7 linked regions of the Homo sapiens genome follow. The protein of the gene in region 4 interacts with the protein of the main gene of each other region in a pairwise test. Each region holds a gene or a part of one and is shown on either strand. Other genes may lie near its edges. The genes, in order: CWF19L2, HDAC4, ZNF35, FSD2, SPATC1L, CAMSAP3 and PPP1R18.

Evidence for each region.
Region 1: the proteins of FSD2 (region 4) and CWF19L2 interact in binary tests that used the Homo sapiens proteins (3 or more experiments, as listed by UniProt).
Region 2: the proteins of FSD2 (region 4) and HDAC4 interact in binary tests that used the Homo sapiens proteins (3 or more experiments, as listed by UniProt).
Region 3: the proteins of FSD2 (region 4) and ZNF35 interact in binary tests that used the Homo sapiens proteins (3 or more experiments, as listed by UniProt).
Region 5: the proteins of FSD2 (region 4) and SPATC1L interact in binary tests that used the Homo sapiens proteins (3 or more experiments, as listed by UniProt).
Region 6: the proteins of FSD2 (region 4) and CAMSAP3 interact in binary tests that used the Homo sapiens proteins (3 or more experiments, as listed by UniProt).
Region 7: the proteins of FSD2 (region 4) and PPP1R18 interact in binary tests that used the Homo sapiens proteins (3 or more experiments, as listed by UniProt).

The regions. Positions count from the first base shown.
Region 1 is NC_000011.10:107,443,749-107,448,039, reverse strand, and holds part of CWF19L2 (CWF19-like protein 2), read left to right. Parts: intron 1-4,291.
Region 2 is NC_000002.12:239,135,521-239,139,811, forward strand, and holds part of HDAC4 (histone deacetylase 4), read right to left. Parts: intron 4,277-4,291; coding exon 4,164-4,276; intron 1-4,163. UniProt on the Homo sapiens protein: Responsible for the deacetylation of lysine residues on the N-terminal part of the core histones (H2A, H2B, H3 and H4).
Region 3 is NC_000003.12:44,647,184-44,652,055, reverse strand, and holds the start of ZNF35 (zinc finger protein 35), read right to left. Parts: upstream 3,325-4,872; 5' UTR 3,222-3,324; intron 1,116-3,221; 5' UTR 989-1,115; coding exon 797-988; intron 1-796. UniProt on the Homo sapiens protein: May be involved in transcriptional regulation. Involved in cell differentiation and/or proliferation.
Region 4 is NC_000015.10:82,754,071-82,757,965, forward strand, and holds the end of FSD2 (fibronectin type III and SPRY domain-containing protein 2), read right to left. Parts: 3' UTR 1,292-3,895; downstream 1-1,291.
Region 5 is NC_000021.9:46,177,376-46,181,666, reverse strand, and holds part of SPATC1L (speriolin-like protein), read left to right. Parts: intron 1-4,291.
Region 6 is NC_000019.10:7,605,332-7,609,622, reverse strand, and holds part of CAMSAP3 (calmodulin-regulated spectrin-associated protein 3), read right to left. Parts: coding exon 4,144-4,291; intron 3,353-4,143; coding exon 3,230-3,352; intron 3,148-3,229; coding exon 3,052-3,147; intron 2,847-3,051; coding exon of another isoform or gene 2,814-2,846; intron 1,803-2,813; coding exon of another isoform or gene 1,755-1,802; intron 1,498-1,754; coding exon 1,359-1,497; intron 1-1,358. UniProt on the Homo sapiens protein: Key microtubule-organizing protein that specifically binds the minus-end of non-centrosomal microtubules and regulates their dynamics and organization.
Region 7 is NC_000006.12:30,683,445-30,688,258, reverse strand, and holds the start of PPP1R18 (phostensin), read left to right. Parts: upstream 1-1,613; 5' UTR 1,614-2,212; coding exon of another isoform or gene 2,213-2,240; coding exon 2,241-3,851; intron 3,852-4,814.

The sequences.
Region 1 (4,291 bases), on a different chromosome or scaffold from region 4:
CTAGCTTACTGTTATCCCTATCCAGTGACATTTTCATTTCAGGTACTGTATTTTTTTTTTATCATTAGATGTTTCGTTTGGATCTTTCTAATGTTTTTCAGTTTATCTCCTCATTATCTTTACATTTTCCCTTCCTTGAACATATTTATGATAGCTGTGTTAAAGTCTTGGTTTGCTGTTTCATTTTCTCTTGTTTTTTCCTGTTCTGTTTCAATTAAATGATTTTTCTCTTGAATATGGGTCACATTTGCTTGCTTCTTTGAATGTCTAGTAACTTTTAATTGGATGCTGAACCCTATGAAACTTATATTGTGACTGCTGGATTTTGTTGACTTCTTCAGAGAGTATTGAGTTTCCTTTTGGCATACAGTTAATTACTTGTGAATTAGCTTAATCCTTTTCAAGGATTGTTTTTAAGTTTTGTTCGTATGCACCTAGAATAGCTTTACTCTAGGACTGGTTTAGCCTTTCTACTAAGGCATGACCTTTGTGGGTTCTCTGCTGATTGTCATGGATGTTCAGCGAGGTTTCTTTATTCTGGTTGGGAGGAACTAGAATGTCTTCCAGCCCTTTGTGAGCTCTGGGGATTGTTCTGCTTACAGCTCTTTGGTAATTGTTTTCTCCATGGTAATTTTTCTTTGCCTGACCTTGTGGACTCTCATCCTCAGCATGTTCAGCTTGGTCTTTCTTTAAAGACTCCAGGGGTCCTTTAAGTAGATTTCTGGCACCCTTTCTCTGTGTAACTTCCCATCTGTACTTTTGTTTCAGCCTTCACAAAGTTCAAATTCCGTTTCCTTTGCTCAGTGAGATTTTCATGTTCTGCTTGGGTTACCCCTCTATGCCACAGTCTAGAAAGTGCCTTTAGATAAAAAGCTGTAGAGATTGTAGTTTCATTTTTATTCCAATTTGTATGTATTTCTAGTTTGATGCCATTTATTTTGTCAAGGACAGAAGCAGAAGTCCTCAAGATCCCTTGAGTTTTGCTGGTAGCACTTTTCTGTCTTAGTTCCACCTTCTAGGTTTTGACCACTAGATAGAATTAGAGGTGTGGTTAATTCTGCAGGCTGCACAAGAGAAGGAGAGCCCTGAAGGCTGTGTTAGGTCAGGAGGCGTATTAAGCTTGATAGTTAATGAGTTCAAGGTAAAATGGAGATTGAAACTAAAATTAGCAAGAGAACTGAAGTCGTAGCATGGGGAGCATCAATTTTGCTGAAGTGGTAAGGTGAGTGAGTGCATAATTGTGAAAATGAGTATAGGTTGCTGCTTAAAAGTTTCTGACTAGTGCTATTGAAAGAGTAGAAAAAGACATTTCATTTAATTTCAGCTTGCATTTATCAAATGCTTATTCTTTGCCAGACACTGTTCTAGACATGGGGAATATAAAAATATATTTTTAAACCTTTGGGGAACTCATTTCCTAATTGGATAAATAGATACATAATATTAATAATATGATTTTGTAGTAGATTTTGTAGAAGAAGATGTTGGCTTTATTTTCTGTTGTTACTGAGTTTAGCATACCATCCAACATGATGCCATGGTAGTACAGGGTATTAAGAGGGATTTCATTTGCTAACTTGTTGATTAAATGATGCTTGAATTGAGACTAGATAGATTAGTAAGCATTAGGCAAATAAAGGTGTGCTTGGCATTTCATGCATAAGGAATTGCGAGAGCAGAGACATGGAAGTATGAGATAATATGAGTGTGAGTATGTGTGTATGTATGTAAATATAACTATAAGCAATTTGATAGTACTAAATTATAAAACAAGAGGAGGGGGTGAATGGAGATGAAACTGTAAGAATTAATAGGGCCTTGTAAACCAAGAGCTTTGACTTTATTCAGTAGGGAATGTATCATCTAATTGGGTTCAGCTGCATTTATTAGAAAATCTCAGAATAGCCATTGATTATACAAGATAGAAATTCATTTTTTTCTGATATGAAATAAGTCAGGTAGACAGTCTAGGGCTAGTATGGTCTTCTGGGACCTAGGCTTCTATTGTCTTGCTTTTCCATCATCCTTACAGCATTGCCTCTTAGTCCAGATAACAGGAAAGAAGATGCTCTTTTTTTTCTTAACTTGACTTCCAGAAAGTCCCATAAAATACTTTTGTTTACATCTAATTGGACACTTGATCATAAGGCTTCACTTTCTAGCATGGGAAGTACATTACTTCTCCAAATAAAATGGGATTCTGTTGGTAGGAAAGAAGAGGGATAACTAGCAGTCTTTGTAATGGGAAGCCCTAGAAGAGAAGTACGGTGGTCAGATGTTCCCTTTATATTACTCTAAATGTATTTGGGGTGAGGGGTTGGAGAAAGAAGGGGAGCAGGAAAGATGAGTCCAGGAGATTAATTAGGTCTCCTGGAATCAGTTGTTTAGGTGAGAGATAAGATCTGATCTAGGGCTACTACTTTTTTTTTTTTTTTAAGGCGGAGTTTTGCTCTTGTCCCCCAGGCTGGAGTGCAATGGCACGATCTTGGCTCACCACAACCCCCGCCTCCCGGGTTCAAGATACTCTCCTTCCTCAGCCTCTCAAGTAGGTGGGAGTACAGGCATGCGCCACCACATCTGGCTAATTTTTGTATTTTTAGTAGAGATGGGGTTTCACCATCTTGGCCAGGCTGGTCTCGAACTCCTGACCTCATGATCCACCCGCCTCGGCCTCCCAAAGTGTTGGGATTACAGGCGTGAGCCACCGCGCCCAGCCTGGGGTGCTACTTTAAGGATCAAAGAAGAGAATATTAGTTGGTATTTTGGTTGCAGGTAACAGAAACTAAATATAAATTGGATTTTGCAAAAAGGATTTATTATTAAAGTACAAAATTCTCATAAGACATATAGATGTAGGAATGCAGCTAGGCTTCAAGAATAGCTGGAATTAGAATTGTGAATGGTTTTTGCAATTTTCTTGCCATTTTTCATTTCCCCTACCCTGAGTTCTAGTTTTTAAAAAATTTTTGCTGATTTCTATTTCTCATGACAGAAATGGCCTCTCCCAATGCCTTCCCATTTCTTAGTTTTAGATAAGCCCATTTAGACCTGATTTCAGATTCCTGTGGAATGGCTCAGGTTGATGTGAATTGGGTCAGGTACCTACGTTTGAACTAATCAGTAGTGGCCAGGGATAGAGGTAGGCTCGTATGGTAATCATGTATTCACTCTATGGTATATTTAATAAATATTTTAAAAATGAAAATGGTAGGCTTGAATATGTGAGGTAACATCATCCTGAGTTTCTGACTTGGTTTAAGTGGGTGGTTGGTTGTTCCAGATAACTCAGTTCAATACTATACAAGGAGAAGTAGATTTTGTAGAAGAAGAGGATAGCTTTATCTTCTGTTCTTACTGAGTTTAGCATGCCATCCAACTGCAGTAGACAATTAGTCAGTGAAACTTTGGTTAGACAAATTTGAAAGATATCAGCACAATTTATTGTAGTTCAGGCGATCAGAATGGATTTAATGGCCCAAAGGGAATGTTTAGACATTGAAAAATGTCATGGGCAAAGAATGGAATCCCAAATAACAAGATATTTAAGGGCTAAGCAAAGGAGGAAGAGTTCATGAAGGAAATGGAGAAGAAACAGAGTGGGAGGAGAGCTGAGAGGTGTCATGGAAGCCAGGAAAGTGAGTTATCAACAGAGTTGCATTAAGCAGAGAGGTCTAGAGAGCTGAAGACTGAAACGTTTTGTTGAGTTCGGCACAGTGGAAGCCACTGGTGAGTTTGGAGAAGTTTCAGTAGATTAATGGGGACAGTAGATGTATTGTAGAGTTTTGAGAAAATGTATGAAAGTGAGAGTGTGAAGGCGGTGCATGTAGACTACTCTTTCAAGAAGTTCATCTGAGAATGGAAGCCGGAAGATTAATTCCTGCTAGAGGAGGAATATACGGGGTCAAGGAAGGTCCCCCTTCCCTCCTTAAAAAAAAAAAAAAAAGGGTGGGAAATGCTTGAAATTGTTTCTAGGCCATTAGGGATCTTTGGTTAATGCCGTGAGAGGAGAAGATAATTGATGGAGCAAGGTCCTGGAGGAACAGAAAGAGTTATCAAAATCTTTAGAGCAAGATCTGCCTTAAATAGGAGGAGTTAACTGGAAATAAGGATAGGCACAGCCATAAATGTTTTGGGCGGTGGGTAGGAGGATAAGGTGGCCCTAGTTTTCTTGATGAGGTAAAAGAAGACATCATTTGCTGAGAATATGGGAATTGGTATAAAGCTTCAGGAGGGTGTTGAAGAAGATAATGTTATCTGCAGTTTTAGATCAAGGGAAATCTCAAAATGTGAA
Region 2 (4,291 bases), on a different chromosome or scaffold from region 4:
GGCCTAGAGGAACGGCGAACACTGTTGGGTGAATCACAAATCAGTTAGTGGCACCCTTTCTGCAGGACAATTTGGCAATCTATGTCAAAGGCCTTCAAAATCTGTCTAACCTTTGATGCTGGAGCTCCACTCTTGGGATGTAACGTTAAGAAATAAGGAGATGGCCTGATGCCCATGAAGCCTCCGCTGCAGGGCCGAGCACCCAGCAGGCATGGCAGAGCTATGCGGCTTCCCCGACACCTTGGTGTTAACAGAACGGAGGGGCATTGCACACCGGGATGCTCTGGGGGTTGGGAACGATCTAGCTGATTACTTGGACACTTGTTTATGATACATTAAGTTAGAAAAACAGGTTATAGATCATGTACCTTTTAAAGAATGGGCTTGGATAAAGCAAACACAAGCCAGGAGTAAAGATTAGAAGGCCACACAGGAAGAGTCAGCAGCAACAGTCTCCAAGGACTTGAACTACTGTGATATTTAACATCTTTTTGCTTGTAGAATGAACGTGTTTTGCTAAAAAGGACAATAGTTTATCACCACTATATCCCCTACACAGTAGCTACTCAAGGAATGTCTGCTGAATGAATGGGCAAACAAAGAGAAGGAATAAAATGTTGTTGTAATCATGCTAGTTAGTGGGGTTTGGCAGATAGAAATCCCCTTGCCAGAAGCTAACGTTAATAATGAATAGATAACAGATTTCATTATACTCTCTACCTCCATGACAGCAACGTTTTTAGCTCCCCCAGATGAATGAGAAAATGCCATGTTTGTCTTTCTGTGCCTGGCTTAGTTCACTTAACATGAGGGCCTCTAGTTCCATCTATGTTGCTGCAAATGTCAGGGTTCTATCCTTTTTGATGGCTGCATGGTATTCCACTGTGTACAGCACCACATTTTCTCTGTCTATTCATCCACTGAAGGACACTGAGGTTGATTCGACCTCTTGGCTATTGTGAAAGATCCATGGCTAAGACCTCAAAAGCACAGGCAACAAAAACGAAAACAGGCAACTGGGACTCTGCTCAACTAAAAAGCTTCTGCACAGCAAAGGAAGAGAATCACCAGAGTGAAGAGACGACCTGTGGGAAGGGGAAACATGTGCAAGCCATTCATCCGACAAGGGAGCAGTATCCAGAACATGCGGGAACTCCAGCAACTCACCAGCAAAACCTGAAGCAGCCAGTATAAAAGTGGGCCAAGGATCTGAAGAGACATTTCCCCAAAGACATATGACTGGCCATTGGGGATAGGAAGAAACGCTTCTCCTGACAAACACTTACACTCAGGCTGTTCCTACAGAACAGAAAGCCCGGCCTTCTCACTTAGGAGCAAACTCACGGCGCACCTCGCCCCAGAGGAAACCCTGCAACTCCCTTTAGATTTGCTCACATATTACATTGTGTAAGGAATGATTAAAGGGCTACTGAGGAAAACATTTTTCCTAGGCAATTTTTTTTTTGTCAAAAGTTAAAGAATTATCAGTAAGTTATGCTGTAGAGGAAATGCTTGTGTTATCATTTGGGAACAAAATAAGGAGACGTTCTAATGTTTGCAAAGTTTTCATTTCCTTTGTAAGCAAGGTTTTTTTTAAGCCCATTTCTGGAACTAAAGGAGGCTTCTGAGAATTTGTTCCTTGGAGATGCCGACTGGTCCACCTGAGAAATCGCAGGGCGTTCTGGCATCTGCTGCCTCGGGGCCGAGCCCTGCGGGAGGCATTCTGAGGCTGGCGCCCCCGGACCGCATCTCAGCATGTGCTCAGAGGGAAAGTCCGCGGGCCTGAGGTCAGAGCATCCAGGCACGCGTGTAAATAACAGCAGCAGCGGCCACAGAGGAGCTGTCCCCTTACGCACCTGGGCGACTTCCTCTCACTCTCTGAGCCCTGCCTCCTCCCTGTAGAGGAGGTGCCGGCACACTGGGCTTCCCTGGCCTGTAGAGGAGGAGGTGCCGGCACTCTGGGCCTCCCTGGCACTGTAGAGGAGGAGGTGCCCGGCACACTGGGCTTCCCTGGGTCCAGGGGGCCTTCAAGGTACAGTAGTGTTTCTAGGGACCCCAGGGTGAACAGAAAAGGCAGTGCTGAGAGCCAGGCTGGGAGGCCCCTGCTCCCCCCACATCCTCATCCACTCGAGACACCCCCTCTGACGGGCAAGCTCACTACACTCTGCACCACGTGAGAACGGAGAGCCAGCCCCTGGCCATGAAGCACAGGTGTTCTCACAGACCCGTCCAACTCTAGAGATACTGAAACCCAGAAAGGGCGCCTGGGTGTGATCCAACATGCAAAGGCTGCCCGTGCCCACTCTAATGAACATCTGATGTGGAACATGAACAATGGCACCTCTTGGTATTTCCTGTAACTCCTTCTACATGTTCTATTAATTTCCAGTAGCTTCATTTACGTATCGTGATTTCTAAAAATTAACACAGAACTGGAATGATGCAGACCCACCCAAACAAGGCACTGTTCCAATATTAACTACCATGTACATAAGTGCCTCATTTTAAATAAAAACATGTATCTAGGACCACAATCAACAAGATGCAACCAGTGTTAACCTCAGGGCAGGAAGTAATTTCTAGGTTGCATTATAAGGCTTATTACTGGTAGACCTCAGCTATGACCACAGCCATACAGAGGACTGTTAAAACTTCTAATCATCTAAATAAGTACTGAAGTTGGCAGGCTGAAGAAGACAGGTAATAAAAGAAATCGATGTATGAAGTAGAAAGAGTAAGAGAAATTGGGGATTAAGCAGCCTGGAGACAAAGGGCAAAATTCGTTCTGAGCAGTAATTCTAGTCTCTAAAAATGTTTATACATAAACGGTCTTGAAATTTGAAATGAAAATGCTAAACACTCATGCCTCTGTATCCCAGCTAAGATTTGCCAATCCTTTGGAAGGGCAGGATTCATTTCTAAATATTTAAGAAGGAAAGTCAATAACTATATTTAATAAATTATAGCCTTCTGTAAGTTGGAGAGAATTCAGAAAGAACCTCCCACTCAGTAGAACTCTGCCCCATGAAGCAGACACAGCATTTCCAGCTCAACTCATCAGAAAACTCACTGCTAAAGCGTACCCCTCCCACCCCTGCCCTGCAGTCAGGCCCACCCAGGCCCAGGGCACCACTCAGCCTGCGGGACTGCCTCTCTCTGCCTCTCTCTTCTTCCCCGTGCTCTGGGGGTGGCCTCTCCTTGTCAGTGGGGCATTGTGTGGAGTGTGGGGCAGGTCCTTGCTGCCTGCCTGGTTCTGTCCCTGGGCCTGGCACAAGGCGCTCGGGACACGTGTGGGATAAAGGCAGGGGGCGCAAAGGAGCTCAAGGAACACGGAGCGAGGTCCTCGGACCTGCTGCCCTGGAAAGCCTCCGAGTATGGTCAGTGTGCGACTCGGCCAGCCTGGGCGCCACTCCTCCCTGCCTTGCCACTCAGCTCCTGCGTCTCTGACATCTTTCCCACCTAGGGACTCCAAGCGTCCCCTGACTCCTCTCTAGCTTGCCAATGTCCCTCCCAGACTGTGGCACCACTTGGGGTCTGATGAAGGCAGGGGACCAGGGGTGCTGAGCTCTGCGGTCTGAGATGCCTGGTTCCCGTGATGCCTGGAAAAGTTCCCCGCTCTGTGGCTTTGGCCGGCCCTGCCATGCTGACCACGGGTGACGCTCCAGTCGGCCCTGACACATAGTTTGTTGGCCGACATCGTGTTGTGTATTTCTCAATACAAAATAAAAAATGTTAAGTCTCACTTAGCAACTATACCCACGTGCCCACGGCCTCTCAGCCACCCTCAGAGCACTGGCGACCACAGCGAGCTGGGCAGCAGGGATCCTGTCCACCTAGAGCACCTGCCATGCGTGGGCTTGTGCTGGGACACCATCTAGTGACATCTGCTCTGGAAGAGGTCAGGAGAAAGGACCAGGCTCAGGGCTGTCCCCGACGTGCCTGGAACTAGCGTGTTCATAATGAAAGGAGATGTCTGTGATGAGAGGAAGGCAGGAGAGTAACCTCCAACTGCGTCCTTTTTAGGATGGCTCACAGGCCACTTTCCCTCACCCCAAATTGGAAGGTGAAGAGTGAAGGGCAAGTGCAAAGTGGGGTCATTTCAAGCTCATCCGTCCCGAGTCCGACTCTAGCCGTAGGACACAGGACAAACGCTTCGCACTGACCTCCGCCGGGATGCTGGGGACGGCGGGCGCGATACCGTTCTCCGCGCTGACGCTCCCGGAGCTGTTGTTGGGTGAGCTGGGTCCGGAGCCTGGGGCGCTGCTGCACGCGGAGTCTGCGGAGGCAGAAA
Region 3 (4,872 bases), on a different chromosome or scaffold from region 4:
AACAAACAAACAAAGAACACAGAATCTCAGACCACCCCCAGACATCCTCAATCAGAATCTGAACTTTAACTGTTTTAACAAGAACCCCTAGGTGATTCCTATGCACATTAAAGTTTTAGAAGCTCTGGTTAGCATTGTCAAAACCTGACTGAAATTACCTGAAGAGTTTTAAAAAAACATGGATACCCAGGTCCCACCCTTAGATTCTTTTTTTTTTTTTTTTGAGGCAGGGTCTCACTCTATTGCCCAGGCTAGAGTGCAGTGGCATGAATTCGGCTCACTGCAACCTATGCCTCCAAGGCTCAATCAATCCTCCCACCTCAGCCTCCCAAGTAGCTGAGACTACAGGCACGTGCCACCATGCCAAGCTAATTTTTTGTATTTCGGCATTGCAAAACACGAGGTGTGCAATGTTGCTCAGGCTGGTCTTGAACTCCTGACCTCAAGTGATCCTCCCGCCTTGGCCTCCAAAGTGCTGGGATTACAGGTGTGAGCCACTGTGCCTGGACCACGGATTCTGATTTAATAGGAATAGAATACAGTATGGACATCAAGATTTTATAAAAAGCTCTCCAGGTTCTGTGTAGCAAAATTTGAGAACCACTGGTTTACAGAAAGTACTGAATGTCACATCAATCAGAAGGGAATGTTTCTATCCTATTACAAAAGACTGGAAGCTAGAATTGTACCCAAGAAATAAGACTCCAGGTGTGGAAGCAGAGGGGCAGAGTCCCCTCTTAAACTACTTGAGGTCTTCAAGTATCTCCTCCCCTCTTCCTCTCAGGCCCCCGTTTACCTTTTCTTCCTCTTCTGATCCATCAAGGCCTGTCTGAAGACCCTGCACTGGGGCCCAGACTTTGATGTTCTCGGAGTGCACTTGTTGGCTGGATGCCTGACCTGGGAAGTTTTCTTCTTCTTCCTCCTCCTTTTTCACCTTCACTGGGCCCCATGGGGCTAGGGCCATGGCTTCTCTCAATTCTGCAGTCATCTTCTCTGCTCAGCAGGGGAACTCCTATAGCTGGGCGCTGCCCTGCAGAGGTCAAACCCCATCCAAGCTTTATGTTTCAAAAGCTTCTTCTTGAGTTTCTTCCCAGGGCCAAGATGAGTACTGCCTACTGAGAAATCAGAAAACACTGTTAGCACCAAGGAGAGATTTGCTGGATGCCACTTAGCAAATTTGCCGGATGCCACACCGGCAAATTTCACCAGCGCCTGGCCAGGGGCCAATGTAGGACATGGAATCCTCTATTCCTCCCTCATAGGATGAAGGGGTTGGACTATAAATATGTAATATCTTCCCATAATAACCACATTGCAAACAGCTTTATATAATGTTTATTGATTTTTTCCTGATTAAAAGTTAACTTACTTTTATTGTAAAAACTTAAAAGCAGCAAATGATTAAGAAAAATCATCTCGGTCTACCTCCAAAGAGATAACCACTATACATTTTAAGATTTAAGATATTTCTTTCAAAGGAAAATCTCCAACCATACTACTAATAATTATGATTTTACAAATTCTTGTTTTTGACTTTGGGGATACATATTTTCACAATTATCATCATAGCATTTTTTAAAAAAGGATTTTACAACAAAAAGATTTTTTATTGCCAAGGATACAAAATAATGTGAACAAAAGGATCCCAAGAAAAAGACTGGGAGTCTTTATACCAACGTGTTAGCAGTGGGTAGTTAACTCTGGATGGTGTAATTACAGGTAGTTTTAAGGTTCTTTTCATTTTTTTTGTTTGATTTTTACATTTTCCATAGCTTCCAAATGTCCTGTGAGATAAAATATTACACTTAAGATTTAAAAAAAGATTACTTTCATGTTGCCATTCTTCATGCTTATTTTAAATGCTACACAATAACCTATGGTGTTGATAAATCTTCACTCTCATTGAAAAAGGATCAAGTAATACAGAAATATATAGAATTAAATATATAACCTACACACACTACACACACACACACACACACACACAAAGTACTTATCAGTTTAGATGGGAGTCCTAACCCATTTTCTCTGCATTTACATACTTATATGTTCACCTTCACACATATTGCTTATTTTTCAAAAACATACTTTAGATCATCACAGTTATATACTGTTCAGCAACCTGCATTGTTTTTTAACTCAATTTCCGTATTTCACAATAGTCTTAACAATCTTTCAATACAACACATATAGAACTACCTCATTCTGGCATAGTATTCTAAATTGTGGCTATATTATCATTTACTTAATCATATTCTATTTATGAACCATTTATTTAGTAAAAGTTTATATTTCCATTTTATTAATATTTAAAAGTTTTTCTTTGTAAATATTTTTTTTTTGCTGAATTATTCCTTTAGAATAATCAGAGAATTACTGGTTCAAGGATTTGCTGGTTGATATGTACTGTCAAATTGCTTTCCAAAAGCACCATGCCAATTCACACCCCCACTAATTGACAGTAACCCTTTATCACAGCTAAGCCAGCAGGGTTTTTGTTTTTAACCTGTGAGCAAAATAACCTTACTAGTTTGATTGCTTATGAAGAGATTGAAATTTTTCTTTCTAACCCCCTTTGAATGTTTTATTGGAAAAGGGTGCGAAATCTTATTCAATCCCCTGTTGCTGCTATTGAAGTGATCATACTCTTTTCCCCATGTCAACTTACTGGCCACTTACTGTATACACTGAATTTATTAAGTAATGCAATACTTTCATTCCTGTGACAAACCTTAATTCTGGAGGACTATTCTTTCCATCACTATCCGAATTCAATCTGGTATGAAGGTCCTTAAGACTAGTTCCACCTTGTGTATAAGACTGCCTACAGTGAGTACTCTCATCAGACTTCTGATCAGATTCTGACGGACCTCCGGTCCCAGACGGCACAGGGCCCTCTATCAAAGGCTCCCTTTCAACGTCCTTTCTCTATTTCCAAACGTGGCAATCCATTCTTTCCACGTATAGGCTCCTCGCGGCCCTGTCCCTGGGACCTATCTGGCCCCTTGGCCGGTCCGTGTGCATCCTCTCCCGGACCAGGCCCCAGGTGGGCAGCAGCCGGGATTCCGAGGCGGTGGGGAACTCACTGCCCCCCGCACCCCGACAGACAAGGCTGGTGTCCCCGGGGAAAGGACGCAGGGGCCGCTCCTAGGGCCATGGCCCCTGGGAGAGCCCCTTTTTCTCCCTCGACGTTCGTGCCCACCCCCTCCGACCCCACTCACTGTGCGCAGCTGAGAAGCCCGACCTGAGTTCACTGGCTCTGCAGCAGGAGGCTGGCTGACCGGTACTTCAGCTTCTACCGGCACGAGAACAATGACCGGACAGGAAGTGCCTCGGGATGGGCTTCCGGCTCCCCAAGTCGCCAAGCCGGCCTCTCTAGGAACCTCGGAGGTGCTTTCCTCTCGATGGGTGTCCAATGTCGCCCCAGACCAGGGATGGGGCAGAAGCGCTTAGGAGGATTGTGCTGTTGGAAGCTCTAAGTGAGCCTCAGGGAGGGGCGCATCCCAAGCAGGGATGAGACACTCAGGCGAGGCGCGCACCCAAGAGCCTGAAGCTACACAGCATTAATCTGTAGAAAGCCCTGATAATTTCCCCTCAAATGTTTTATTTTGAAAATATCAGAGTACAGAAGAGTTGAAAGTATGGCACATTGAATACCCGTATTTTCCATGTGGACTCAACAATGAACATTTTGCTATGTTTGCCTGATCTCTCAATACATATTTAAAATCATTTTTTTGAAAGTTGTAAACATCAGAACACTTCATTCCAAATACTTCAACATGCATCCCTTAAGATTAAGAATATTCTTCAAACTACCACCACCGTCACAGGTAAGAAAATCAACAAAAATTCCCTAATACCATCTAATAACCAGTCATATTCAAATTTCCCAACTGTCCTAAAACATGTATTTTATAACTTTTTTTCAAATCAGTTTCACACACTTTAGTTGGTTACAGCTCTTTAGTTTTGGGTTTTCGTTGCCATTGTTGGTTTTTACTTTTTATTTTGAAATGATAGAATCACAGGAAGTTGCAAAGATAGCACCCTTCACCCACTTTCCCCTCATGGTTACATCTTACATAAAATGAAAAAGGAAATCAACATTGGTACAGTATGTGTGTATAGGTATAGCACCTATAGATTTGTGTAACCACCACTGCAATCAAGATACACAAGTGTTCCATCACCACAAAGACCTTTCTGGTGCTACCTTTTAATAGTTCCATCCAACCCTCTCCCCATTTTTCCTCCCACCATCCCTAACCTTTGGCAACCATTAATCCATTTTTCATCTCTATAGTTTTATCATTTTGAGAATGTTATATGAATATTTTCATACAGAATATGGCCTTTTGTGATTATTTTCACTCAGCATTAATTCCCTTGAAATTTATTTGAGTTGTTATGGATATCAATAAGTCAATTTTATTGCAGAGTAACAAGTATTCCATGGTAATACATAAACCACAATTTGTTTTAACCACCTAAGGAAGGATATATGGGTTGCCTACAGGTTTCGACCATTACAAATAAAGCTGCTATGAACATTCGTATACAGGTTTTTGTGTGAACGCAAGTTTTCATTTCTCTGGGATAAATGCTCAGAAGTGCAATTCCTGAAGCATGACATATACATGTGTGGTTTTACAAGAAACTGCCAAATTATATTCCAGAGTGGCTGTACCATTTTACATTCCCAGCAATGTATGAGATCCTGTTTCTCTTCATCCTTGCCAGCAGTTACCACCATTAAAAAAAAAAAGTTAAGCTATTCTGATAGGTGATATCTCACGATTTTACTCTGCATTTCCCTCATGCCTAATGATGTTGAACATCTTTTCATTTGCTTATTTGCTATCTATACTT
Region 4 (3,895 bases):
ATCCCCAGATTGTTCTGTGTCCCCTCCCACTCTTCCCAGATTAGAAGTCACCATGGAGCACTATTAGTAATGGGACTCTGTATCAGATCTTTAAGGTGTATTGGGACAGAAGAAAGGTTGATATTTTGGGGTTGTTTGTTTTTTTTGAGACGGAGTTTTCACTCTTGTTGCCCAGGCTGGAGTGCTATGGCGTGATCTTGGCTCACTACAATCTCCGCCTCCCTGGTTCAAGCAATTCTCCTGCCTCAGCCTCCTGAGTAGCTGGGATTACATGCGCCCACCACCATGCCCGGCTAATTTTTGTATTTTTAGTAGAGACGGGGTTTCATCATGTTGGCTAGGCTGGTCTCGAACTCCTGACCTCAGGTGATCTGCCTGTCTTGGCCTCCCAAAATGTTGGGATTACAGGTGTGAGCCACCATGCCCAGCAGGTTCATATTTTTAATGTTTCCTTCTACTCCCCAAGCACACACAAATTTGAAAGCTGCTTTGCTTTCTAATAAAGAGGCTTTTCCTTTGATTTTGGAAGATAATTTGATGTCTCTTTTCTCTTTGCAGGTATATGAGCTCCCTGAAAGCACAAAGCAGTTATTTCCATCTTCAGATCATTCAGAGATTATGAAGGCACAAACCCTGCCTTCAATTTGCTTATAGTCAAGTGGAGCAGACACAAGTCAATGATTGCAGTATAGCCACTGAAGTAATCTAAAAGAGGTGAGTGTGGCACTTAACCTCTCCTGGGAGGGGGAGGAATAAGGCAGTGTTTCCAAGAGGTGATTTTGGAGCTATACAGGCATTAGGTAGACAAGGAAGGGGAGGTCCATTCTGGGTGCCTAGGACTCTGTGGCTGATTTATAAATCGTAAATGGTACAAAAAACAGTGTTGAGTATCTTTTACCTTTCTCCAGAGTACTGTTCTTACTTTTGGATAGTGCTTCTTGTTTTTTCCTTCCCTCTCCCTGTCCCTGTCACCTTTAAATTAAATGAATGTTTGGAAGGAAGTAGGAGGGTAAGAATCTTTCTGGGTGGCAGAATAATAGATGGGTCTACCAAGAGCGATGTATATACCCAGTAAAGCCATCTCTAAAACTGTGTTTCTGCATTGTTACAGTGCATAGTTGGGAAATCTCAGTTTTGTTGGCTGTGTACTTTCCCAGTGAATGGATTATATTCCTTTCTGCGAGCCAGTCTGTTTGAATTTAAGGGCATCTCTTAAATTCCTTTCAAGCAAGAGACCTAACATTTATACTTAGGAATGAGAGTAGTAGAGACAGCAAGATTAGAATCCAAGTTCATATACCAAAACATTTTTATTTGCTATGTCTGAGTGACTACATGTTGTTTGAATCAACTGCAGGCTAATTTGTAACATTTCAAATAAATGATAGTTTAATTCCTCCAGGATTTGAGTAAGGTGAAAATAGAGCTAAAAACCATGATTCTGTCACAGTCTGGGAAAATGAAAAAGCAATCAATTAGTGAGTTGGGCTTAATTTTTTTTTTTTTTTTTTCTGGAACTGGTGATAGCAGAAAACAAGCAGTAAAGTAGTCAGACATGATATACTTGACAAGAACCACCACCTGTTCAGTAGCAACTCTAAAATAAGTACTAACTTAGGGGCAGTTGTTGTGCCCAGGTCATAGTCATACTCCTTCCAGGAGACTTCCTGATGACAGAAAAGATGCTGACCAGCTGGGGTCTTCTTTCCAAATAACTTTTCTCTTGCATTTAGATTAATTAACCATTGGTTACAGTGAAACAAGCATATGTACAGAGTTAATCTCCTATAGCTTGAAGTTATACATGATCTTTATTTGAGTATCTTGACTTGTTAAAGGACAGTGTTTTAAAAGCTGGATTTGGTTATGTTCTTCTGGAGACTAAGAAAATAGAGTCCTTGAAATCAAGCTGACTCTGCTTTTAGCCTCCTAAATGAAAAGGTAGATAGAACAGGTCTTGTTTGCAAAATAAATTCAAGACCTACTTATCTACCAACAGCAATTACACGCTTTCCATTGTCTTCCTATAGAAAATAGGAGTAGTACACTTATAGATGAGAAAACTGGAGAAAGACATAGTGAACATGTGAGAATCTTGCTCTACTAATTGATAGGAAGGTGACTAGAAATTGGCGAAGTTTTCTTGGTAAGTTGAGGAGAGGACTTTTCTTATAGTGCAGTCTGGTAGCTGAACCGCCTTGCATCAAGACCAATGTAGTCTTATTTACAGAATGCCACATCACAGTGAATTGTGCTGTGGACAGCTTCCAGTGTGTGAGTTGTGGAAGATGATGATTTTAACAGATTTTGGAGGATGAGAAGTATTAAGAAGAAGGCCCCACTGTCCATGCATTTGCTCTGCTTTTTACTTTTGACCAAGTATACACTTCAGAAATATCTTATTGGATGTATACAAAGTGATTGTGTGTCATTTGAACCAGCAGGAAGTAATTTATTAAACACACTTTTCTAAATAAAAGTCATTTAATTTTATCAGAAATCAGTGTCATTTTAGATTGCAAGTCTCAAACCAACTTTCCAATTCTGACTTGTAAGGGTGCCTTAAATCCTGAATACTGTACTCTGTATTACTAAACCCATGTTAGTTTACGCCAAGATTCTGTGGTGGTTTTACATATTCTTTTTCCCCTTTGTTAAGGTGGGGAGGCCACAGCTTATGTGAATGACTTTCTCAGGAGTTATAAAGTGATACAGGTAAAGCTAAGAAAAGAACAGATTTTGATAACTTTTGTTTTAACTGTCCAGTGTTAGGGATTGTGGCTACAGTGGTCTAATTTTTAAAAACTCTTTTTTTTGCTTTGTTTTTTAACAGACTTATCAGCAGGTTGCAGGTGAACATGGCCTTGAGGTAAATCTGTCCCTTGCTGAATACAGTTTCAGTAGATTGTTTATAGTAGTTTCAGGAATTGAGATTTTTTACAAAAATACAAAAGTTTTGCTTGGTTCTGTTCTAGATGTTTTCTTCTAAATAAATGAGAAAGATGTTTCAACAAAGGCTCTTTATGCTGAATAATTGTGATGCTTGAAGTTGCTAATCTGCTTTAAGTGGATTTTAAATGTCAGGCAATTCTAGACAGTTTTTTCTTGGTCAAATAAAAATTTAATTAAAACTTTATACGTGTTGAGTTTTTAATCCATTTATCCGTGTTCATACTAACGTGTAGTATTCCATAAAGCCTATTAGAACCCTGAATTCAAACTTGCCTTCTCTGTGATATCCTGTTTCTTACTTGGTAGTTTCTATTTCAGTAGCTGAGAACTTTTTTTTTTTTTTTTTTTGAGATGGAGTCTTGATCTGTGAGCCATCTCGGCTCACTGCAAGCTCCACCTCCCGGGTTCACGCCATTCTCCTGCCTCAGCCTCCCGAGTAGCTGGGACTACAGGCGCCCGCCACCAGTCCCGGCTAATTTTTTTGTATTTTTAGTAGAGACGGGGTTTCACCGTATTAGCCAGGATGGTCTCGATCTCCTGACCTTGTGATCCATCCACCTTGGCCCCCCAAAGTGCTGGGATTACAGGCGTGAGCCACCGCGCCCGGCCGAGAACATTTTTAAATATACATGATATGTATCTTTTAATTGTTTATAACTGGAACTATTTCTGTGCTTACATCTGCTGTCCCTTGTTTCAGAGTAGACAGTCCAGCTTGGCAGGATAGGTGTGTGTGTGTATAACGAGTTATTAAATTGTCAGTGTGAATTGTTAATTCAGGAATCTGAGCTGCCATTTATACGAGTAGGCAGAGTTTAGTAGGAGATGAGAGTCTTTCAGTTTGTCAGACTTTGCAGGTGCTGGAAAACATCAGAGGTTTTTTGTTTGTTTGTTTGTTTGTTTTTGAGACAGAGTTGCGCTCTTGTTGCCAAGGCTGGAGTGC
Region 5 (4,291 bases), on a different chromosome or scaffold from region 4:
CTCTGCCACTCACCAAGGGGCCGCTCCAGCACCTGTGCTGGGGGTGGGGGAGGTTGCTTCCTGAGTCCTTCTCAAACGCTGGCCACCACCCTCAGATGTGCACTCTGAGCAGGCGCAGTGTGCAGGAGGCACTCTCCGCAGCCAGGCCCCAGGCCCTGCTCGGAGCTCCATGGACAAGCCTGAGAGCGAGCGTGTCTGGAAGCAAAGAGGGGAATCCATGGCATCGTCCCCACACCTTTGGTCTCTGGTGACAGGCAGGGGCTCCTCGCAGGGAGCTGGGAGGAGAGCACCTCGCCAGGATGTGCGGGGACAGTGTGGCTGGGGAACCTGGCGCCTGGGGGCCATGCTGTGCGAGGCCCCAGGTTCTGCGTCTCCATCAGCGGCCACTGAGCCCCACGCTCACCACAGGGCGTTTGCTGGGCAGACCTGCGCTTACGGTGCTGGGCCACGTGCAGGGTCCCGTTCACAGCACTTGTGAGGCCCGGGCACTGTGGCTGCAAAAGGGCCCTTAATCTGTTTGGCGTGTGTGGACCGCCGCAGGCTGCGTGCCCCGGGCTGCGTTGCTGTCCTCCTCCTCAAGAAGGAATCACCCTGGGCCGGACCTCAGGGCTGGACAGAGTGCTGGTGCCTCCCCTGGCAGGAGAGGGGCAGACCCTCAACCCTTGCCCAGGCTGTGCAGTCCCCAGAGGGACCCTTGTCAGGGGCTGAGTCCGGGCGGGGTCTCCATGACCACGGCTGCTGCCCCTGCCCTTGGGTCATCTTGGCAAACCCAGGTCTTGCTGGACACGGGTCTTGGGAGGAGCCTCAACCTGAGGCCAGCAGGCCTTCCACAGAGGGCCTTGGAGCCCCCGCCACAGGGTGTGGGGCAGGCTCAGTGTGGCCCGGGCTGGCAGCGGGGAGGGGCCTGGACAAGACCACCCTCTAAACTCTGCCACTTGAGTGGCAGCGTGTGGTGCACCCTTAATGCTCTGGGCCTCAGCATGTGCTTGGGAATGTACCTGGGGCTGTGGGACGCTGCATTCAGGACCAGCCCTCAGCAGAACTGGGGTTGGGAAGACCAGCACTGAGCTTCTGCAAAAAAGGAGAAGTTTATAAACAAAGGAACCACCACCAGCAATGTCTGCATGTTGCCAAGACTTCATTAGCATCTGTGTTCAAAACAGGATGAGTAAAAACCTGCTTTTCTTACGGATTCAACAACACGTGCTCATGGTAAACTTATAAACGCCATGGAGGGTGCAACGTTTAAGCCTCAGGCCACGCCTCCGGCCCCCTCCGCAAAGGCAGCCACAATCAACGTTCTCTTGGGTTTTCTCTGGAACTTTAGTGGAGATCTGTGTGTCTGTCTGTGTATCTTTTTGGTCCACCTACACGGGATTGTGCTGTTCCGCAACTTGACTTTTCCCCCTTAACGATCCATTTCGCGGCATTCCCCACCAGTCCTTATCTGCAGATCTCCCCGGCACACTTGAACACTGGGCTCCTTCTGTGGGGGCCCCAGGCAGGCAGCACTGTTCCCAGTTCTCTGCGACCGTGGACGCCGCCGCCGTGGGTGGCCTGCGCAGGCGCCCTGTGGCTTTGTGTAGGGGATCCCACACCTGGGTCCTCGGGTCAAAGGCTGTGTGCATTTGAAATGTTGAAACAGACACTGTCAAACGCTCTCTGAACGGTCCCTACACCCCACTGATGGAGGAGGAGGGCACTGCGCCGGCATCGTTCCCACGTCACAGGAGGGCTCATCTGTCCCCGTCAGCTGGGGAGCGAGGTCTCCAGGTCTTCTCACCCAGGTTTACAAGTGAGTGACGCGAAGGGCCAGTGGGAGCAGCAGTCCTCTGCCTCCCCTCCCAGCTGCCCCATCTCGTCTCCCTCGGGATTGTCCTGGTCCCTCCAGCACGGCCACGATGCCACTCGCCGTGTCTCCACTGGAGAGGTGTCCCCTGGAGGACAGCCAGGCCCCCCCAGATTGCCCACTCGCTCCCTAGTTGTTGGTGGTGGATTGTCAGATGATTTCCAACAGTGGTGAGAATTCTCTATGTGCAACTCCTGGTCACTCCTTCCGTCTGACATGACAGAAGATTGTCCCTGTGTTGTTAGGTGTACTTTAAAATGGCCCTGCAATATTGCCGATTCGGATGAACCACAATGTAATGAATTCTCCCTCAGTTTGAAATTAAAGTTTTTCTTCCCCTTGAGGTAAATAGCACCACAAAAAAGGTTTTAAGAATTTTTATATTTAAGGTTATTTCCATTGGATTTCTTTTTTTGGTGTGTGTGTGATTTTTTTTACTTTTATGGAGATGGGATCTTCTATGTTGCTGGTCTTGAACTCCTGGGCTTAAGGGATCCTTCTGTCTCGACCTCCTAAAATGCTGGGATTACAGGTGTGAGCCACCGTGCCTGGCCCATTATGTTTTTTTCTTTTTCAGACAGGGTCTATGTTCCCCAGGCTGGAGTGCAGTGGCAATGATCATGACTCACTGCAGCCTCGACCTCTGGGGCTCAAGCAATCCTCCTACCTCAGCCTCCTGAGTAGCTTGGACTACAGTGCTTGCCACCATGAGCGGCTAGTTAAAAATTTTTTTTTTTTTTTTGTAGAGACAGGGTCTCCCTATGTTGCCCAGGCCAGTCCCAAACTCCTGGGCTCAAGCAATTCTCCCACCTTGGCCTCCCAAACCATTGGGATTACAGGCTTGAGCCACTGTCCAGCTGGATTTATTTTTAAAAAATAGAATCATTGATTCAGAAGGCAGGAGTAAATGGTTTTTTGTTTGTTTGTTTTTGAGACACAGTCTGGCTCTGTTGCCCAGGCTGGAGTGCAGTGGTGTCATCTTGGTTCACTGCAACCTCTGCCTCCTGGGTTCAAGCGATTCTCCTGCCTTGCCCTCCCCAGTAGCTGGAATTAAAGGCACACACCACCATGCCTGGCTACTTTTTGTATTTTTAGTAGAGATGGGGTTTTGCCATGTTGGCTAGGCTGATCTTGGACTCCTGATCTCAGGTGATCCACCCACCTCGGCCTCCCAAAGTGCTGGGATTACAGGCATGAACCACTGCACCTGGCCATGTATTTCTTTTTTAAAAAACTTTTAAGTTCAGGGGTACAAGTGCAGGCTTATTACATAGGTGAACTTGTGTCATGGGAGTTTGTTGTACAGATTATTTTGTCACTCAAGTATTAAGCCTAGTACATTCGTTATTATTCCTGATCCTCTCCCTTCTCTCACCCTTCACCATCTGGTAGGTCTCAGTGTCTGTTGTTCCCCTCTATGTGTCCACGTGTTCTCGTTGTTTAGCTCCCACTTATAAGTAAGAGCATGTGGCATTTGGTTTTCTGTTCCTGCATTAGTTTGCTGAGGACAATAGCCTCCAGCTCCATCCATGTTCATGCAAAGGATATGATCTCATTCTGGTTTTTTTTTTTTTTTTTTTTTTTTGAGATGGAGTTTCACTCTTGTTGCCCAGGCTGGAGTGCAATGGCACGATCTCGGCTCGCTGCAACCTCCGCTTCCCGATTTCAAGCAATTCTCCTGCCTCAGCCTCCCAAGTAGCTGGGATTACAGGCATGCACCACCATGCCCAGCTAATTTTGTATTTTTAGTAGAGATGGTTTTCACCATGTTGGTCAGGCTGGTCTCGAACTCCTGACCTCAGGTAATCCACCTGCCTTGGCCTCCCAAAGTACTGGGATTACAGGCATGAGCCACTGCTCCCGGCTGATCTCTTTCTTTTTTATGGCTGCATAATATTCCATGGTGTCTATGTACAACATTTTCTTTATCCAATCTACCACTGATGGGCATTTAAGTTGATTCCGTGTCTTTGCTATTGTGAATAGTCTGCAGTGAACATATGCGTGCATGTGTCTCTATAATAAAATGATTTATATTCCTTTGGGTACCATTAATGGAACCCAACCAGTAATGGAATTGCTGGGTTGAATGGTATTTCTGTTTTTAGGTCTTCGAGGAATCGCCACACTGTCTTCCACAATGGCTGAACTAATTTATGCTCCCACTAACAGTGTATAGGCGTTCTTTTTCTCTGCAACGTTGCCAGCATCTGTTGTTTTTTGACTTGTTAATTATAGCCATTCTGACTGGTGTGAGATGGTGTCTCATTGTGGTTTTTATTTACATTTCTTTAATAAGCAGTGATGTTGAGCCTTTTTTCATATGCTCGTTGGCTGTATGTATGTCTTTAGAAAAGTGTTCATGTCCTTTGCCCACTTTTTAATGGGGTTGTTTGTTTTTTTCTTGTAGATTTCTTTAAGTTCCTTATAGATGCTGAATAT
Region 6 (4,291 bases), on a different chromosome or scaffold from region 4:
GTGCTTGAATTATCCCAAGACCACCTCCCTGCCTCCATCTGTGGAAAAATTGTCTTCCACAAAACCGGTCCCTGGAGCCAAAAAGTTGGTGACTATTGCCTTAGGCCTTTGCATCTTTCTAGAACACTCTCCCCCAAGACCTCAGCTCAAAAAGCTTTTCCGGGCCAGGTGTGGTGGCTCACACCTGTAATCTTAGCACTTGGGGAGGCTGAGGTGGGAGGATGTTTGAGCCCAGGGATTCAAGACCAGCTTGGGCAACATAGCAAGACCCCATCTCTATTTTATACTTTTTTTTTTTTTTTTTTGAGATGGAGTCTCGCTCTGTTGCCCAGGCTAGAGTGCAATGGCATGGTCTTGACTCACTGCAACCTCCACTTCCTGGGTTCAAGCGATTCTCCTGCCTCAGCCTCCTGTGTAGCTGGGATTACAGGCGCCCGCCACCGCACCCGGCTAATTTCTGTATTTTTAGTAGAGACGGTTTCACCATCCTGGCCAGGCTGGTCTTGAACTCGTGACCTCGTGATCCACCCGCCTCGGCCTCCCAAACTGCTGGGATTACAGGCGTGAGCCACCACACCCAGCCCTATAATTTTTTTTTTAATAAAAAAGAAAAAAGAGTTTTTTTAAAAAAAGCTTTTTCTGACCACCCATTGCCTTTAGGACTACCCAGTATGCAAAAAGTACTTCTGGGCCGGGTGCAGTGGTTCACACTTGCAATCCCAGCACTTAGGGAGGCCAAGGTAGGCAGATCACTTGAGGTCAGGAATTCGACACCAGCCTGGCCAACACGGTGAAACCCGTCTCTACTAAAAATACAAAAATTAGCCAGGCGTGGTGGCGTGTGGCTGTAGTCCCAGCTACTCAGGAGGCTGAGGCAGGAGAATGGCTTGAACCTGGGAGGTGGAGGTTGCAGTGAGCCGAGATCATGCCATTACACTCCAGCCTGGGCAACAGAGCAAGACTCCCGTCTCAAAAAAAAAAAAAAAAAAGTACTTTTGGATAAACTTAGTATCTTTCTCTCCCAGCTAGAGCCGTCTGTGAAGTGGGGAGTGTGTCTCTATTCTGGCTGGATCCCCAGTGCCTAAAACAAGGTCTGGCACACAGTCCACACTCCATACGTTTCATCTGCTGCAGGAATGAACTCCTGGAAGCACAGAGAGGTTTATATACTTGTGTGAGGTCACAAAGCTCATTGGGGAAGAGAGAGACACAAACTCAGGCCTGCCAGTTCCGGAAGCTGCCCTCATGACCACTGCATCGTTGCTGGTCTCGCGGACCTGGGGATGGAGGGTCTAGGGGCTGGGACTTAGGATGCCCAGCTCCCCGGCACAAGATCTGTTCCACATCCATTTACTCACCCTCAAGTCGAAGCAGCTGGGGACAATAGCAGTGGATGGTGGCGGCCAGCGCGGCCCCACTGGCCAGGTCCTGGAGGCTGGTCACCGTCGGGAAGCAGGGGGCACGTCGCGCCACCACACGGTCCTTGCGGTATCGGATCTGCAGATGGGAGCCAGGTCAGGTGAGTGGCCAGGCTGGCCCCCAGGGTCAGCGGTCATGCAGGCTGGGCAGGGAGGCCTGGGGTTTCCGCCATGAGGGGGCGGGAAGCTGGGGGTCCCAGAGACAGAGTTGGGGGGCCAGCCTGGAGCAGGGGAGGGGCAGCAGCAAGAGGCAGAGGAGATGTCTTCGAGCAGCCAGGCCAGCAGCGGGGGCTGGGGACAGGGACTCCTGGGACCCCGGGGCGGGGGATACATTACCATGGGGGGTTTGCTCCCCGACTCCTTCAAACAGAAGGCAATTGCGTGCTGGGGGGAGAGGAGCAGCCATCAGCAAGGGGGAGGGGTGCTGACCTGCTGGGCCCCCAAGCCCACCTTGGGGGGGAGGGGGTAGCCCTGACCCTGGTCCTGAGCCCCGGCCGTCCAGCTCCCTGACTGCTCTGGCCGGCTTCGCGAACCCCAGCTCCTCCCAGCCCCAAGGGACCCCACAGAGTAGGAACCCCCTCTTATGCGGGGAATCCTCCTCCCACAAAAGACCCAGGCCCCCAGCTTGGGGAGAGGATGCAGAGGAAGCGGGTAGGCAGGAAGGGAACCTCCCAACCCAGGCCCCAGGGTGGGGGAAGGAGTGAGCAAAGGTGGGGACGCCAGCCAGCCCAAAACCTCCCCCACTTCCTCCTTGTTTATCTACTATGGGAGTAATTTATATGAAGCACAGAGAGGTTTAGATACTTCTGCAAGGTCACACAGCTCATTCAGGGAAGAGAGAAATTTCAACTTCCAGCTTCAGGGATGGGCCTCCTCCTCCTTTTCAAAGCTGGGATTTTTCTCTAGGGAAGCTGGGGGTCTCAGTTAGGAAAGTTATTCTATCTTCTTCTGCATTGGAGGGTCTTCCCCTTGGCCAGAGGGTGCCCTGCCTGCTAGGGTCAGGATCCACGTTTGTGATGGGCTGCAGGTCCCCCCTTCAGAAATTTATGTGGTCTCCCCACCTCGGCTAAGGGGGACAGGTTCAGGGGGTCCCACCCTCTTCATTAATGGGAACGGGGAGGGCTTGCCCTTCTGAATAACGGGAGGGGAAGTTCGTCCCCACCCATCAGTTCGCTGGGGGAGGGGTCTGCCCTCTCAGTTAATGGCCGAGATTCTACCCTTCTCTTGGTTCACAGAGGGGTTCTCCCTGTCTCCCAGGACTGGGGTCCAACCTCCTTTGCTCACAGCTTGGGGAGGTATGAGAGGGCGCGCAGACAGGCAGGCAGAAACAGACATACAGACAGACAGAGCTACAAGCAGGGCAGGCAGACGGGGCGGACAGACAGCCCCACTTACAGGAACCAGCTTCCAGTACCAGCGCGTAGGGCACTGAGGCCAGAGAGGCAGAGAGGAGGGCAGCGGGTACCGGCACAGGGGACGGGCAGGGCACAGAGAGATTGAGAGAGGGGGGAAGAAAGAGAGAGTGTGTCACCTCTAGCCCCCTCCCCACTTCAGGAGTGTCCAGGAAGCACAGCCCTGCCCTCCCAGATCTCCGGTCCCCCATCCTTCTGACGGTTCTATGCCCTGGCCTCACCGAGGGCTGCGCCGGGGCCGCCCCGTCTGCAGGGGCTGCTGGAGAGGCTCGCTGGGCCGCTTCCTGCTCGGTCTTCTCCTGCAGCCGCCGGACGGTCTGGAGGGCAGGGAGGGGGTCAGTGGTCTGGCCACTGGACGATGCTGGTCCCCGAACCCACCCCAGGCCCAACCCCACCTACCGTGTCCACCCAGAAAAGCAGCTTGTGCTCCAAGCTGGTCAGGGCCAAGGGACCTGGCAGGGTCTTTGTCCACTCGAAGGCAAAGGCAGCCATGAGGGCATCAATGACAGCTAGGTGGGCTCCCTGTGGGGGCAAGCGCTAGAGGGTGAGACCTGAGAGCTGCAGGAGGCGCACCTCGGCCCCCAAGGGCCTGGGAAAAGGAAGAACCTGCAGATGGGAGGGACTTGACGGGGGGGGTGGGGCTTGAGGGGGCGGGGCCAGTGGTTCATGGGTGGGGCCTTAAGGGAAGGAACAAGAAATGGGGTCCCGGAAAAGCCACGCACGATGGGTGGGACTTTGAGGTCAGATGCTAGGCGTTAGGATAGGGTGGGCTGTGTACACAAATCCTCAAGGGCCAGAGTAGCGCCTTTTTGGGGAGCTGGGTTTGATGGGAGGGGCCAGGCTTGATGGGAAGAGCTTGAGGGGAGGAGCCAGGGCTGGGGGGAAGAGCTAGGCTTAATGAACAGAGCTTGAGGGGAGGAGCCTGGACTGGTGGGAGGAGCTAGGTTTGATGGACAGAGCTTAAGGGACAGAGCCAAGACTGATGATAGGAGGAGCTAGGTTTGATGGACATAGCTTAAGGGAAGGAGCCAAGACTGATAGGAGCTAGGCTTAATGGATAGCGCTTGAGGGGAGGAGCCAGACCTCGTGGGAGGAACTAGGCTTAATAGCGCTTGAGGGGAGGAGCCAGGCCTGGTGGGAGGAACCTGGGGGAGGAGCCAAGCCTGATGGGAGGAGCTAGGCTTAATCGACAAAGCTTGAAAGGAGCCAAGACTGATAGAGGGAACTTGGGAGGAGCCAGGACTGGCGGGAGGAGCTTGAGGGGAGGAGCTGAGCATGGTAGGCGTGGTCTAACAGGCAGTGGCGGGGCCTACCATGAGAATGGGCTGGTGCCTCAGGTCGGCCTCGCGCACCGGGCGCTCGGGCAAAGCAGGCACTGTGCCCCTCCGCGCCAGCAGGGCCAGCAGTGCAGAGGGGTTGGGGGGTGTTTCAAGCTGTGGCAGTGCCTGGCGCCAGGCTCTG
Region 7 (4,814 bases), on a different chromosome or scaffold from region 4:
GCAAGTTCAACGGTCATAGCTGTCCCTCCAGGCCCCAACCTTGCCTCACCACTCCCGGCCCTAGTCTCTGCACCTCCTTAGGCCCTGCCTCTGGGCTCAGACCCCAACCTAGTCAAGGGGATTCTCCTGCTCTTAACTCGATGACTTGGGGCTCCCTGCTCTCCCGAGGAAGATGCTCTGCAGGAAAATAAAAGTCAGCCTTTTTCTACATATGGCATGCAGTCTGTCAGTGTCTCCCAAGCTACAGGGCTGAGTTTGGGAAAGAAAGCCAGAGGGAGCCTGGGAGCACCGAACTGGAGTCTGGGCAGCCACCACGCCCTCTGGCAACCGCTGGGGTTCGGCCACCCCCGCAGACCCGCCCCCACTTTGCCAGAGCGGCCGGGTCCCCATTCCCATTCCTTCAAATCCCCTTTTTCCCGGCAGCCGACCTGTAGACCCAAGGGAGACAGGTTGAAGCTAGAAAGAGTCGGGGCAGCAGCTCTGGTAGGGGAGGGAGCATCCAAAACCTCTGGCTTCTGAGCGCCTCTCCTGCCGCCCATCCACAAAGCCCCCCACAGCCTGGCGGCTGCCCTCGACCCCGCAAAACAAAGGACTTCAGAGGCTGGACCTACAGACCCAGATGAGAAGGCAAAAGCGTAGGGAGGAGCGGCAGGAGATGGGAAGGGCGGGCCCCGCTCGGAGCAGCTGCCGCTTCCTCCCAAAGTCCCACGAGGGGCCTGAGTCACGGGCCACCGCCCTGGGTCGGCGAGCTGGGGGAAGGGATCTGGACACCTGGCGTGTCCGGGCGGGAAGCTGGTGAGGGCCCCTGGGGACAGAGCGGAGGACCAGTGGTTGGGGCGAGAAGAGGGCAGTCCCGCAGCGAGTCCCACGCGGGGTGGGAGGGATCTAGGCCCCGCCCTCTCCTCGGCTCCGCCCTGCGCCCCCTTCCCTCTCCTCATTGTCCTTAGACAAAGCGGTCGCCGCCCCCGCCCGGCCCCCTGGTCTCTGTCTCCGTCCCTCCTCCTTTGCTGCCTCTTTCCCTCCTCCTCTCCCTCCCTCCTCCCCTCCCTCCAGTCTCCGGATCTCCCTCGGTCCCTCTCTCCTCCTCTTCCTCTCTCTGGACGCCCGGCTCCTCCGCACCCCCTCCCCCGGGGGTCCCGCGGCCTGTGAGTTGACTGAGGGGCTCAGACTTGGGGAGTGGGTGTCTCCTCGCCCCTGTCCTTGCTCCCGTCCCTGGCCCGGACCTTGGCTGTCTCCTCTTTGTGCCGAGATTGTCAGTCTGTGCGGCTACAGCGGGGTGGAGACGGCCGGCTCTGTCACGGCTTCATGAGAGCGGGGACGGGGCGCAGGACTTGCAGGCGCCGGGGAGAAGAGACATGGAGCCGGCCCTTGGCACTCTGGGGTCGCGTGGGGCAGTCGGTGGGGGAGGCAGGCGGTGGTGACAGGACAGGGTGGGGGTGGACGCCAGGGTTCTGGGAACGCGCTGGCAGCCCTGACGCCCGGGTTCCGAAAGTCTCGGGGGTGGCTATTTCCCCCGACCCGCCTCGGGGGCGGAGTGCGGGGCAGAGGGGTGGGGGCTGGGGAGAGGCGTGGCCCGAGCGGTGCTGGAAGCGGAGCCGGGACCTTTGGGGCCCGCGCTGAGACGCGCCCGGCTGCTGCCGCCGCCCTCCTTTCCCCTCTTCCCTGGTTTCCCTTCTCCTCTAGACCTGTTCGCTCTCCGCCCCTCCTTGCCTCCCCAACACCCCCTCAGGTCCCGTTGCCTCCTGGTCCTTTCAGGGATTCCTGGTCCTTCCTTCCCACACTAGCCTCCCTGGGGTATCGCTGAGGCAGCCTGGCCTGCACCCAGGTTCCCCTCACCCCTGCCACATTTCTCTCTTCTCCCTCACGCCAACTTTCCTTTTCGCCCTTCTCTCTCTTTCTCACATCCTAGAGACGGTCTTTAATACGCATTAACCCTGTGCTGCCACATCTGGCTCCTGCCCTCATTGCCTCCAATCCGGACTCTTCCTCTCACATCACCCCCACCACCCCCAACTTGGGCTCACAACTTCTCTTCACTTTTTCCATTTCCCCAGTTCTCTGCCTTCCGTCTTTCCCTCTGTCCTCATCCTTAGCCCCTCTGCCCTGCTTTGTGTCCCACCTCTCCCCCTCCACTTCCTCTCCTCCCACCCTCAGTCTCACCCCCGGGCTGTCTCACTCTCTGGAGCCTCTCCTTCCTGTTCTCTGTCCCCAGTGCTCCCTACCCTCACCTCAAGACGACCATGGCCACCATCCCAGACTGGAAGCTACAGCTGCTAGCCCGGCGCCGGCAGGAGGAGGCGTCCGTTCGAGGCCGAGAGAAAGCAGAACGGGAGCGCCTGTCCCAGATGCCAGCCTGGAAACGAGGGCTCCTGGAGCGCCGCCGGGCCAAGCTTGGGCTGTCCCCTGGGGAGCCTAGCCCTGTGCTAGGGACTGTAGAGGCTGGACCTCCAGACCCGGATGAGTCTGCGGTCCTTCTGGAGGCCATCGGGCCAGTGCACCAGAACCGATTCATCCGGCAGGAGCGGCAGCAGCAGCAGCAGCAACAACAACGGAGTGAAGAGCTGCTAGCAGAGAGAAAGCCTGGGCCTCTGGAGGCCCGGGAGCGGAGACCCAGCCCTGGGGAGATGCGGGATCAGAGCCCCAAGGGAAGAGAGTCAAGAGAAGAGAGACTAAGTCCGAGGGAGACCAGAGAGAGGAGGCTGGGGATAGGGGGAGCCCAAGAGTTGAGCCTGAGGCCTCTGGAGGCTCGGGACTGGAGGCAAAGCCCAGGAGAGGTGGGAGACAGGAGCTCCCGACTGTCAGAGGCATGGAAATGGAGGCTGAGTCCTGGAGAAACTCCAGAGCGGAGTCTGAGACTAGCAGAGTCTCGAGAGCAAAGCCCCAGGAGAAAAGAGGTGGAAAGTAGACTGAGCCCAGGGGAATCTGCCTACCAGAAGTTGGGCCTGACAGAGGCCCATAAATGGAGACCTGACTCCAGAGAGTCTCAGGAACAGAGTTTGGTACAACTGGAGGCAACAGAGTGGAGGCTGAGGTCAGGAGAAGAAAGACAAGACTACTCGGAAGAATGTGGGAGAAAAGAAGAGTGGCCAGTTCCAGGGGTAGCTCCAAAAGAGACTGCAGAGCTGTCCGAGACCCTGACAAGGGAGGCCCAAGGCAACAGTTCCGCAGGAGTGGAGGCAGCAGAGCAGAGGCCTGTGGAAGATGGCGAGAGGGGCATGAAGCCAACAGAAGGGTGGAAATGGACCCTGAACTCCGGGAAGGCTCGAGAATGGACACCCAGGGACATAGAGGCTCAAACTCAGAAACCAGAACCTCCAGAGTCAGCAGAGAAGCTTCTGGAATCTCCCGGTGTGGAGGCTGGAGAAGGGGAGGCTGAGAAGGAGGAGGCGGGGGCTCAGGGCAGGCCTCTGAGAGCCCTGCAGAACTGCTGCTCTGTGCCCTCCCCCCTCCCACCAGAGGACGCTGGGACTGGAGGCCTGAGACAGCAGGAAGAGGAAGCAGTGGAGCTCCAGCCCCCACCACCAGCCCCTCTGTCTCCCCCACCCCCAGCCCCAACTGCCCCCCAACCTCCTGGGGATCCCCTCATGAGCCGCCTGTTCTATGGGGTGAAGGCAGGGCCAGGGGTGGGGGCCCCCCGCCGCAGTGGACACACCTTCACCGTCAACCCCCGGCGGTCTGTGCCCCCTGCGACCCCAGCCACCCCAACCTCTCCAGCCACAGTTGATGCTGCAGTCCCGGGGGCTGGGAAGAAGCGGTACCCAACTGCCGAGGAGATCTTGGTTCTGGGGGGCTACCTCCGTCTCAGCCGCAGCTGCCTTGCCAAGGGGTCCCCCGAAAGACACCACAAACAGGTAGGGAAGCAGCCAAGCCAGACTTCTTAGAAGTCCACTTGTCAATTTTCTCTGGACTCTGGTCTCTTTCTTTTTTATACCCCTGTTTTCTTGTCTTCCTCTATTCTTTCTTGTTAATTCCTGCCACCACCCTTCCTCGCTCTGCACATACACCCTTCCTTCTCAGAGCCCTCCTTTTCCATTTTGAGCCCAAAAGATCCTGCCCCAGCAAAGGCTGTCTCTGGGTGTGTCTCTTTCAGGGTGTGCCAGGCTGCTCATTCTCCCTTCCCTTGGGCTCTGAGTTTCCAACCCCCTTTTCTTTCCTTCCTTTCCTGAGTGTGACCTGCCCCAGCCCATCCAGTGGGAGAGCCTAAAGTGACGAGCTTGAATCAGTGAGGGCAGGGTCACCAGGGTGAGAGCACTTGCAGTTTTTCTGGGGAGAAGGGATAGGGAGCCTGGGGTGGTGGAGGGGGTGGGGTGGGTTTGTGTTCTAGGGAGAAACTGCAGGGAGAAGTGAATGGAGAAAGGTCCAACTGCCCCGTGGGAAGGAGGGCAGAGCTGAATAGGGACATCCTAGGATGGAGGGGAGAGGGGAGATGGAACCGGGCCGGCCAAAGATCAGAGAGAAGGCTTTTGAACCCCGAGTCTGCCCCATGGGAGAGACACAGAGAGGCCATTTGAAGTGGGTGACCTCGGGGTTGCACACCCCCAGCTGGGCCACTGCTTCAGACAGTGCTCCCTTCTCTCTTGGGACAAGAAAAGCCTTCTCCTCTTCCAAAATACCCCCGCCCCTCACTCCCCTGTCCTTCCTCCCTGGGTTTCCCCTCCCTCCCAAGAACTGGCTCAGGGATCGGTTTTCCCCTCTTTTCCTGCCATCCTGGACTTTCCCTCCCCTTAGGGTAGCAAAAGAGAGAAGTGAATTTGGAGACAGTTTTGAGAACAGGCACTGGCCAGGGAGCACAGTGGGAGTTCTGGACAGGGGTT